Linked DNA regions of Homo sapiens: region 1 is linked to region 2. Evidence: fine-mapped expression QTL. Tissue or cell type: lymphoblastoid cells. Region 2 holds a variant in brackets; the other region holds the start of a gene. All regions are shown on one strand. Distances are between the middles of the regions.

Region 1 (5,641 bases), 55 kb after region 2:
CTTTGGAAGGCCAAGGTTGGAGAATTGCTTGAGCCCAGGAATTTGAGACCAGCCTGGGCAACATAGTGGGACCCTGTGTCTATAAAAAAATTTTAAAATATTAGCCGGGTGTGGTGGCATGTAGCCATAGTCCCAGCTCCTTTAGAGGCTGAGGTAGCAGGATCGCTTGAGCCCAGGACATGGATCATGGCTGCAGTGAGCTGTGATCATGCCACTGCACTCCAGCCTGGAATAAAACCCTGTCTCAAAAAAAAAAAAAAAAAAAAACAACAAAAATACAACAACTTAGACTGGGTAATTTATAAACAGTAGAATTGTATTGCTCACAGTTCTGGAGGCTGGGATATCCAAGATCAAGGCTCCAGCAGAGTCACAGTCTGCTAAGGGCTTGTTCTCTGCTTCAAACATGGTGCCTTCTCAGAGCATCCACACATGGCAGAAGGATCAAACAGGCTCCCTCAAGCCTCTTTCACAAGGGCACCAATTTCCCCCACAAAGGATCCATCCTGTTAATATGAATGTGTTGGGTCTTAGGTTTCAACATATGAATTTTGGGGAGATACCAGCATCCAAACCATAGCAGCCCCCAAATATGCTGGGCCCTCAAAACCCTCCAAAATCCCTTCACTTATCTCTATTCTATGACTGGGCCTACTCTCCACAGGGACCATTCACTGCTCCTCACATGGCCCACTCAACAACTTTTCTCGCTCTCTGTAGGCAACACTGTCTCCTCCTTAAATTGAAAATCAAGGCCACCTAAGACACTACCCAGGCCTGCTCTTCATTCATTCATTCATTTAATAAATATTTACCAGAGCTAACATGGGCCTGCACGGTACAGATGTGAGACATACAAGAATGAGAGCCAAGCGGCCATGGTCTCTGCCTTCATGGATCTCAGTCTACTGTTAAGTTACACATTAAGCAAAAATTACACAAATTATTGCACACCCTGAAAGGGGCTAGGAAGAAGAATCCCTGGTGCTGCAATTTTTGTGTTTTTTTTGTTTTTGTTTTTGAGACGAAGTATCACTCTGTGGCTCAGGCTGCAGTACAGTGAGGCGATCTCAGTTCGCTGCAACTGCCACCTCCCAAGGTCAAGTGATTCTCCTGCCTCAGCCTCCTGAGTAGCTGGGATTACAGACGCATGCCACCACGCCCGGCTAATTTTTGTATTTTTAGTAGAGCTAGGGTTTCACCACGTTGGCCAGGCTGGTCTCAAACTTCTGACCTCAGGCAATCCGCACCTGGCCTCCCAGAGTGCTGGGATTACAGGTGTAAGCCACTGTGCCCGGCTGTTTTTTTTTTTTTTTTTTTTTGAGACAGAGTCTTGCTCTTCGCCCAGGCTGGAGTGCAGTGGCTCAATCTCAGCTCACTCCAACCTCCACCTCCCAGGTTGAAGCGATTCTCCTGCCTCAGCCTCCCAAGTAGTTGGGACTACAGGCATGCACCACCACGCCCCTCTAAGTTTTATATTTTCAGTAGTGACGGGGTTTTGCCATGCCTGCCTCAGCATCCCAAAGTGCTGGGATTACAGGCGTGAGCCACTGAGCCCGGCTGTTTCTTTTTGTGTGTGTTTTTTTTAATGAAACAGGGTCTCGCTCTGTTGCCCAGGCTGGAGTGTAGTGGTGCAATCACAGCTCTCTGCAGCCTCTACCTCCCTTCAGGGCCCAAGCAATTCTCCCACCTCAGCGTCCCAAGTAGCTAGGATTACAGGCCTGAGCCGCTAATTATTTTCTTTTCTTCTTTCTCATTCTCTCTCTCTCTTTTTTTTTTTTTTTACCATGTTGCCCAGGCTGGTCTTGAACTCCTGGACTCAAGAGATCCGCCACTCTGCCTCCCAAAATGCCGTGATTACAGGTATGAGCCACCACACCCAGCAATGCTGCAAGTCTTATGGGCCAGGATAGTGTAATCTAAGAAATGATATATGAAGAACTCTCACAATAGGGAAGAGGTGAGGAGTGTCCAGGCAGAGAGAAGAGCATTTGCAGAGGCCCTGGGCGAGAAGAAACCTGCATCCTTTAAGGACCTAAATGAAGCCAAGCAGGCAGAGGCTAGATCACACATGGGGGCTTCATGCCCACCTTAAGTAGTTTGGGTCTTTAAAAAAGGAATGAGACTCATAAAGAGGTTTTAAGGAGCGAATGCTATTGCTGCCATGAACAGATATTCCTTCCCCATAGCTGCAGAGCAGGCACAGGGCTGTTTTTGCCCGCCAGTATGTCCCCACCGTCTAGCCCAGAGCGGGGCCAGCGGCCGGCTCCTACCCACACTTGCTGGCAGGAAGACTGGACGCACTGCGGGACATGGTGATGTCCTGGGTTGGGGCTGAGGAAGGCCTATGCGCGGAGGGTGCGGCCTTCGGCTAAGGCAGAGGACCAGGGTTGGGTCCGTGGCGGCGGGAGGGGTGGCCTCCTGCGCTGGTCGCCCCAGGGGACCTGAGAGGCGCGACAAACAGTCGGCGCGTTTGGTACTCGCGCCTGCAGAGCTTTCAACCTCCGCGCCGGCTGCGCCTGTTTCTCGGCCAGGGGAGCAAGGCCACGCGGCCTACGCAGCCGAGTCGGAACCAACCGGTTGTTTGGTGAAACCTACCCCAGAGCCTCCCGCGGCCCACAGAGCACAGGTGAGGCAGCAGACCGGGTGGGGTCGGTGTCGCGCCTGCGCCCGCCCGGACGCCTCGGGCCCGCCCGCTCCGCACCCTGGAAACCCCTGCACTCAGCCCCCCGGCGTCCCCACGCTCTCGGCCCTGCTGCGCCGGCGGCGGCCATCTCTGGGCGGCGGCGGCGGGCGGTGTTTGCGCGGTCGGTGAGACCCGCGCGGGTGAGACGCTGGGTGAGTTCCGGACGCTTCCAGCCGGCCCGCCGGTGATCCCAGACCTCGGGGCGGGACGCGGCTCCCGCTCACCGCCGGCAAAGGTGGAGGTGCGGCGGGGCGCGGGGCGCGGGGCCAGCCCGGGGCGGTGCGGGGGCGTCCCTGCCTAGCGAGGCCCTGCCCCGCGACCTGCCGCACCCTCCTCCGGCCTGTTCGCGACCTCTAAAGATAATACTTCTCACTGTCGAAAACGTGGAACAGAAAGCAAGGAAGCAAGCAAAGCAGCCGTGCCGCTGCTCCCCAGAGACAAGCTGCGTTAACATGAGGGTGTATATTCTTCCAGATGGTTTTTCCTTGTAACATGAGCGGGGCTTGTTTTTGCAGAACCTGCATCATAAAGTGCTGAAACTCTCTCTCTCTCTCTCTCTCTCTCTCTCTCTCTCTCTCTCTCGACTCTCTCTCTCTCGACTCTCTCTCTCTCTCTCTCGACTCTCTCTCTCTCTCTCTCTCTCTCTCGACTGTACATTCCTGTGTGTCAGGTTGACTACCTCATCCATCCCTGACTCTTGGCATGGCTTTGGACTGTGATTTACTAAATGTAGTTTCTCCCTGATGGTGAGCGTACAAGTGGTTTTCAGTTTTTAGTTATTGCAAAAAGTAATTCATTGAGCATCGTTGTATCTGGGTTTTTGAGCGTGATCATTTCTGTAGAAAGAATCGCACAAGATTCGTTCTAAAACAAGATAGAATCCACGGTCTATACCACAAGGCTTCTGGTATAGATTGTGAAATGGCCCTCAGAAAAGTTATTCTCCTTTTTGTACCTCCAGTAAGTAGCATTTGGGAATACTTGGCTCGAGGAGCTTCCTGAGTGATTTTACTGGAGACCCCCCTCACTTCATAAGGGGCCGGCCCGGAGATGAAGATGTCAACACTTGAGTGTGACTTGCATTATTGGCTGGCCCTACCTGGGGGCCTTTGCTGAAAAGGGAACCATGAGCATCTTAGTAACTACTATCATCTAGTAATTTTTAAACTGACTTCGGTTTATCTTGAACGAACCATTTCAGTCCCCAGTAAGAATAAACCTAAGTTAAGGCAAAATTCAGGTGGATTAGATGAACAGTGGCAACGTGTTGGTGTTTAAGTCATGCTCTGAAACTTAGGTGTTGGGTTGCTAGGGAAGGGATTTTAAAAGATTGATGGGTACGTATGAGATACGCAAAAAGCTTTCTTTAAAGACATGTAAAAAGTTTCAAGTGCTTGGTATCATCTCCATCAGTGAAAGTAAGTGGAATATGGTTTTTCATCTTTTTAAATTTACATTTTAATAAAATATTTGCAAAAATAGAGGGTTTTTTGTATTTATCATTTTCCAGTTTGGTCATAGAATCTTGAAAATTAAGTACATGCATAAGAGTTTAAAAACAACAGTGGATTAATTTCTTGCTCCCAAGTTTCATTTTTTTATTTTTCAGACAGAATCTCCCTCTGTCACCCAGGCTGGAGTGCAGTGGCATGATCTCGGCTCACTGCAACCTCCACCTCCCGGGTTCAAGCGATTCTTGTGCCTCAGCCTCCGGAGTAGCTGGGATTTACAGACGTGCGCTACCATGCCCGGCAAATTTTTCTATTTTTGCAAAGACAGGATTTCACCGTTTTGTCCAGGCTGGTCTTGAACTATTGACCTCAAGTGATCCGACCGCCTTGACCTCCCAAAGTGCTGGGATTACGGGGTGTGAGCCATCGCGCCTGGCCACTTTCTCCAAAGTTTTAAACCAAAGCCTTCTTCGGCAGAGCTACGACCCTTCCTCTATGGCCCATTCTATCCTATGCTGCTTCCCTTTATAAGGACACTCCCACTGTTGTGCTATAATCATCTCTTGGTATCTCCGGACTCTGCCACTCTGAGGTTAGTGCCCTGCCCAGAGCCTGGTACATAAGTACCCAATAACTATTGGTATGCTGGATGAACTTAGAATATGACATGTGTTTATTAAATTGAATTTGTAACTTAGAGATCTATGTGACAGATATTTCTGAGTGAAGTGGAAATTGGGGACAAGGACAGATGTTATCATCTTTTGGTTACAGGTGCAGTTGCATCCCAAGAAACACTACAGCCAGGACACCTGCATTTTTTTTTCTTTTTTTGTTTTTTTTTTTAACAACGTTACTGAAATATAACTCACATACCATAAAATTCACCCATTTAAAGTATACAATTCTTTCTAATATAATTAACTTTTTGAAGTGGTAAAATATATACAACATAGATTTGCCATTTTAACAATTTTTTAGTGTACAATTCAGGGGCATTAAGTACATTCACAATAGTGTGCGATCATTGTCACTATCTATTTGCCAAACTTTTCAATACCTTAAACAGAAACACAGTAACCATTAAGCAATAACTCTGTGCTATGGTTTGGATATTTGTACTTACCAAATCTCATGTTGAAATTTGATCCCCAGTGTGGCAGTATTGGGAAGTGGGGCCTAATGGGAGGTGTTTGGGTCATGGGGGCTGATCCCCAGTGAATACATTAATGCCCTCCCTTGGAGGTGAATGGGTTTTTGCTCTATCAGTTCTCACTAGAGCTGTTTGATAAAAAGAGCTTGTACCTCCCCGCTGTCTCTCCTGCTTTCTCTCTGGTCACATGCTCTCTACACAGCCAGCTCTCCTTTGCCTTCTGCCATGAGTAGAAGCAACTTGAGGCCCTCACCAAATGCAGATGCCCAATCTTGAGCTTCTCCAGACATCAGAATCATGAGCTAAATAAACCTTTTTTCTTTATAAATTATGCAACCTCGGGTATTCCTT
Region 2 (5,641 bases):
CAGGTGGATCACCTGAGGTCAGGAGTTCAAGATCAGCCTGGCCAACATAGTGAAACCCCGTCTCTACTAAAAATACAAAAATTCACCAGGCATGTTGGCGTGTGTCTGTAGTTCCAGCTACTCAGGAGGCTGAGGCAGGAGAATCACTTGAACCCAGGAGGCAGAGGTTGCAGTGAGCCGATATCCCGCCACTGCACTCCAGCCTGGGTGACAAGAGTGAAACTCCATCTAAAAAAAAAAAAATAAAATAAAACAAAACCCAAAGTATACAGGCAAAAAATAGCATGATGAATGGAATAGTACCTCACATCTTGATACTGATGTTGAATGTAAATTGCCTAAATGCTCCACTTAAAAGATATAGAATTGCACAATGGATAAGAATTCACCAATCATCTGTTGCCTTCAAGACACTCAACTAACATATAAGGACTTACATAAATGTCAGGTAAAGGGGTGAAAAAAGACATTCCATGCAAATGGACAAAAGCGAGTAGGAGTAGCTATTCTTATACCAAACAAAACAAACTTTAAAGCAACAGCAGTTAAAAAACAGACAAACAGGGACATTATATAATGATAGAAAGCCTTGTCCAACAGGAAAATATCACAATCCTAAATATATATGTACCTAACCCTGGTGTTCCCAAATTTATGAAACAACTACTACTAGACCTAAGTAATGAGATAGACAGCAACACAATAATAGTGGGGGACTTCAATACTCCACTGACAGCACTAGACAGGTCATCAAGACAGAAAATCAACAAAGAAACAATGGATTTAAACTATACCCCGGAACAAATAAACTTAACAGATATTTACAACACATTCTACCCAACAACTGTAGAATATACATTCTATTCATCAGCATATGGAACTATCTCCAAGATAGACCATATGATAGGCCACAAAACAAGTCTCAAAAAATTTAAGAAAATTGAAATTATATCAATTACTCTCTCAGACCACAGTGGAATAAAACTGAAAATCAACTCCAAAAGGTACCTTCAAAGCCATGCAAATACATGGAAATTAAATAACCTGCTCCTGAATGATCATTGGGTCAACAATAAAATCAAGATGGAAGTTCAAAAATTCTTTGAACCGAGAGATAATAGTGACATAACCTATCAAAACCTCTGGGATACAGTAAAGGTGGTGCTAAGAGGAAAATTCACCACCTTAAATGCTTACACCAAAAAGTCTGAAAGAACACAACTAGACAATCTAAGGTCACACCTCAAGGAACTAGAGAAACAAGAACAAACCTGACCCAAACCCAGCAGAAGAAAGGAAATAACCAAGATCAGAGCAGAGCTAAATGAAACTGAAACAATCAAACAAAAATACAAAAGATAAATGAAACAAAAAGCTGGTTCCTTGAAAAGATAAATAAAATTGATAGACCACTAGCAAGATGAACCAAGAGAAGAGAGAAGATTCAAATAAGCTGAATTAGAAATGAAGCGGGAGATATTACAACTGACACCACAGAAATACAAAAGATCATTCAAGGCTACTATCAAAACTTTTACGCACATAAACTAGAAAACCTAGAGGAGATGGGTAAATTCCTAAAAAGACACAACTCCTAGTTTAAATCAGGAAGAATTCGAAACCCTAGACAGACCAATAACAAGCAGTGAGAACGAAATACTGCCTTCAAAAAAAAAAATACCGGCTGGGCACGATGGCTCACGCCTGTAATCCTAGCACTTTGGGAGGCCAAGGTGGGTGGATCACGAGGTCAGGAGATCGAGACCATCCTGGCTAACACGGTGAAACCCCGTGTCTACTAAAAATACAAAAAAATTAGCTGGGCGTGGCAGCGGGTGCCTATAGTCCCAGCTACTTGGGAGGCTGAGGCAGGAGAATGGTGTGAACCCTGAAGGTGGAGCTTGCAGTGAGCTGAGATTGGGCCACTGCACTCCAGCCTTGGCGACAGAGAGAGACTCCATCTCAAAAAGACAAAAAAAAAAAAATCCAGGACTAGACAGATTGACAGCTGAATTCTACCAGACATTCAAAGAATTGGTGTCAATCCTATTGACACTATTCCAAAAGACAGAGAAAGAGGGAATCCTCCCTAAATCATTCTATAAAGAAAGTATCACCCTAATACCAAAACTAGGAAAAGATATAACAAAAAAAGAAAACTACAGACAAATATCCCTGATGAACATAGATGCAAAAATCCTTAACAAAATATGAGCTAAATGAATTCAACAGCATATCAAAAAGATAATCCACCATGATCAAGTGGGTCTTATACCAGGTATGCAGGGATAGTTTAACATACAAAAGTCAATAAATGTGATACACCATATAAACAGAATTAAAAATAAAAATCACATGATCATCTCGATAAACTCAGAAAAAGCATTTAACAAAATCCAGGCCAGGCATGGTGGCTCACACCTGTAATCCCAACACTTTGGGAGGCTGAGGTGGGTGGATCACCTGAGGTCAGTAGTTCAAGACTAGCCTGGCCAACATGGTGAATGAAACCCTGTCTCTACTAAAAATACAAAAAATAGCCAGGCATGGTGGTGCATGCCTGTAATCCCAGCTACTCAGGAGACTGAGGCAGGAGAATCGCCTGAACCTGGGAGGCGGAGATTTCAGTGAGCCAAGATCATGCCACCGCACTCTAGCCTGGACAACAGAGTGAGACTCCATAT[G/GA]AAAAAAAAAAAAAAATCCAGCATCCTTTTGTCATTAGAACCCTCAGCAGAATCAGCATACAAGGGACATACCTCAAAGTAATAAAAGCCATCTATGATAAATCCACAGCCAACATAATACTGGAAAAGTATTATGAAAGCATTCCCTTTGAGAACTGGAACAAGATAAGGATGCCTACTCTCACCACTTCTATTGAGAACTAGAACAAGATGAGGATGCCTACTCTCACCACTTCTATTCAACAGTAATACTGGAAGTTCTAGTCAGAGCAATCAGACAAGAGAAAGAAATAAAGGGCACCCAAATCAGTAAAGAGGAAGTCGAACTACTGCTGTTCACTGGCAATATGACTGTATACCTAGAAAACTCCTTAGAGTTTTCTAAAAAGCTCCCAGAACTGATAAATGAATTTAGCAAAGTTTCAGGATACAAAATTAATGTACATAAATCAGTATCTCTGCTATACACCAACAGTGACCAAGCTGAGAATCTAATCAATAACTCAATCCCTTTTACTGTAAAAATAAAATAAAGTACTTAAGAATATACCTAACCAAGGAGGTGAAAGACCTCTTCAGCAAATGAGTTTCTTGTAGATTCTGGATATTAGTCCTTTGTCGGATGTATAGATTGTGATGATTTTTTCCCACTCTGTGGGTTGTTTGCTGACTGTTCCTTTTGCTGTGCAAATGGTGCTGGGATAATTGGCACGCCACATGTAGAAGAATGAAACTTGATCCTCATCTCTGACCTTATGCAAAAATCAACTCAAGGCCAGACACAGTGGTTCATGCCTGTAATCCCAGCACTCTGGGAGGCGGGTAGATCATCTGAGGTCAGGAGTTCAAGACCAGCCTGGCGAACATTGTGAAACCCTGTCTCTACTAAAAATACATAAATTAGCTGGTCATGGTGGCAGGCACCTGTAATCCCACCTACTCGGAAGGCTGAGGCAGGAGAATCACTTCTACCCAGTAGGGGGAGGTTGCAGTGAGCCAAGAGTATGCCATCGCACTCCAGTCTGGGTGACAGATTGAGACTCCATCTCAAAAAAAAAAAAAATCAACTCAAGATGGATCAAGGACTTAAATGACTTAAATCTAAGACCTAAACCATAAAAATTCTAGAATATAGTATCAGAAAAACCCTTCTAGACATTGGATTAGGCAAAGATTTCATGACCAAGAACTCAAAAGCAAATGAAACACAAAGATAAATAGGTGGGACTTAATTAAACTAAAGAGCTTTTGCACAGCAAAAGGAACAGTCAGCAAACAACCCACAGAGTGGGAAAAAATCATCACAATCTATACATCCGACAAAGGACTAATATCCAGAATCTACAAGAAACTCAAACAAATTAGCAAGAAAAAACAAATAATCCCATCAAAAAGTGAGCTAAGGATATGAATAGAGAATTCTGAAAAGAAGATATACAAATGGCCAACAAACACATGAAAACATGCTCAACAACACCAATGGTCAGGGAAATGCAGATCAAAACCACAATGTGATACCACCTCACTCCCACAAGAATGCCCATTATCAAAAAATCAAAAAACAGTAGATGTTGGTGTGGATGTGGTGAAAAGGGAAAACTTCTACACTGCTGGTGGGAATGTAAACTAGTACAACCACTATGGAAAACAGTGTGGAGATTCATTAAAGAACTAAAAGTAGAACTACCATTTGATCCAACAATCCCACTACTGGGTATCTACCCAGAGGAAAAGAAGTCATTACACAAATGTACAATTCATATAATGTATAACATTATACAAAAGCACAATTCACAATTGCAAAAATGTGGAAGCAGCTGAAATGCCCATCAATCAACAAGTGGATAAAGAAACTGTGGTATACATACACGATGGAATACTACTCAGCCATAAAAATGAATGAATCAATGGCATTCGCAGCAATCTGGACAGGATTGTAGACTATTATTCTAAGTGAAGTAACTCAGGAATGGAAAACTGAACATATGTTCTCACTTATAAGTGGGAGCTAAGCTATGACAATGCAAAGGCATGAGAAAGATACAACGGGCCGGGCACGGTGGCTCACGCCTGTAATCCCAACACTTTCGGAGGCTAAGGTGGGTGGATCATGAGGTCAGGAGATCAAGACCATCCTGGCCAATATGGTGAAACCCCATCTCTACTAAAAATACAAAAATTAGCTGGGCATGGTGGTGGGAGCCTGTAGTCCCAGCTACTCAGGAGGCTGATGCAGGAGAATTGCTTGAACCCGGGAGGCAGAGGTTGTGGTGAGCTTAGATTGTGCCACTGCACTCCAGCCTGGGTGACAGAGTGAGACTCTGTCTCAAAAAAAAAAAAAAAAAAAAAAAAGAATTATCAAGGAACCTGCCCCCGACAGTCACGTAAGTTCTTTTCTATTTTCCCTAAGCATCGTCCGGGTTGAGAAATAAAGGGACAGAGTACAAAAGAGAGAAATTTTAAAGCTGGGCGTCCGGGGGAGACATCACGTCGGTAGGTTCCGTGATGCCTCCTGAGCTGTAAAACCAGCAAGTTTTTATTAGGGATTTTCAAAAGGGGAGGCAGTGTACAAATAGGGTGTGGGTCACAGAGATCACGTACTTCACAAGGTAATAGAATATCACAAGGCAAATGGAGGCAGGGCGAGATCACAGGACCACAGACCGGGGCGAAATTAAAATTGCTAATGAAGTTTCGGGCATCATTGTCATTGATAACATCTTTTCAGAAGACAGGGTTTGAGAGCAACCGGTCTGACCAAAATTTATTTGGCGGGAATTTCCTCGTCCTAATAAGCCTGGGAGTGCTATGGGAGACTGGGGCTTATTTCATCCCTACAGTCTCGACCATAGAAGACAGCCACACCCAAGGGGGCCATTTTAGAGGCCTACCCTCAGGGGCGCATTCTCTTTCTCAGGGATGTTCCTTGCTGAGAAAAAGAATTCAGTGATATTTCT

The links. PIP is the estimated chance that this variant, and not a neighbour inherited with it, causes the effect.
Region 1: FAIM starts here. The variant in region 2 is fine-mapped to the expression of FAIM in lymphoblastoid cells (TwinsUK, PIP 0.95).

What each region holds. Positions count from the first base shown.
Region 1 is chr3:138,606,309-138,611,949 of GRCh38, forward strand. FAIM (Fas apoptotic inhibitory molecule) reads left to right here and starts at 2,463. Exons shown (of 6, transcript NM_001033031.2): 1 at 2,463-2,629. RefSeq lists a silencer at 2,551-3,010 and an enhancer at 3,111-3,200.
Region 2 is chr3:138,551,516-138,557,156 of GRCh38, forward strand. The region is part of intron 6 of CEP70 (centrosomal protein 70); the gene reads right to left. Among named protein-coding and RNA genes, the nearest start is that of CEP70, 40 kb to the right of the region's middle. The variant G/GA (reference allele first, on the strand shown) is at 2,685.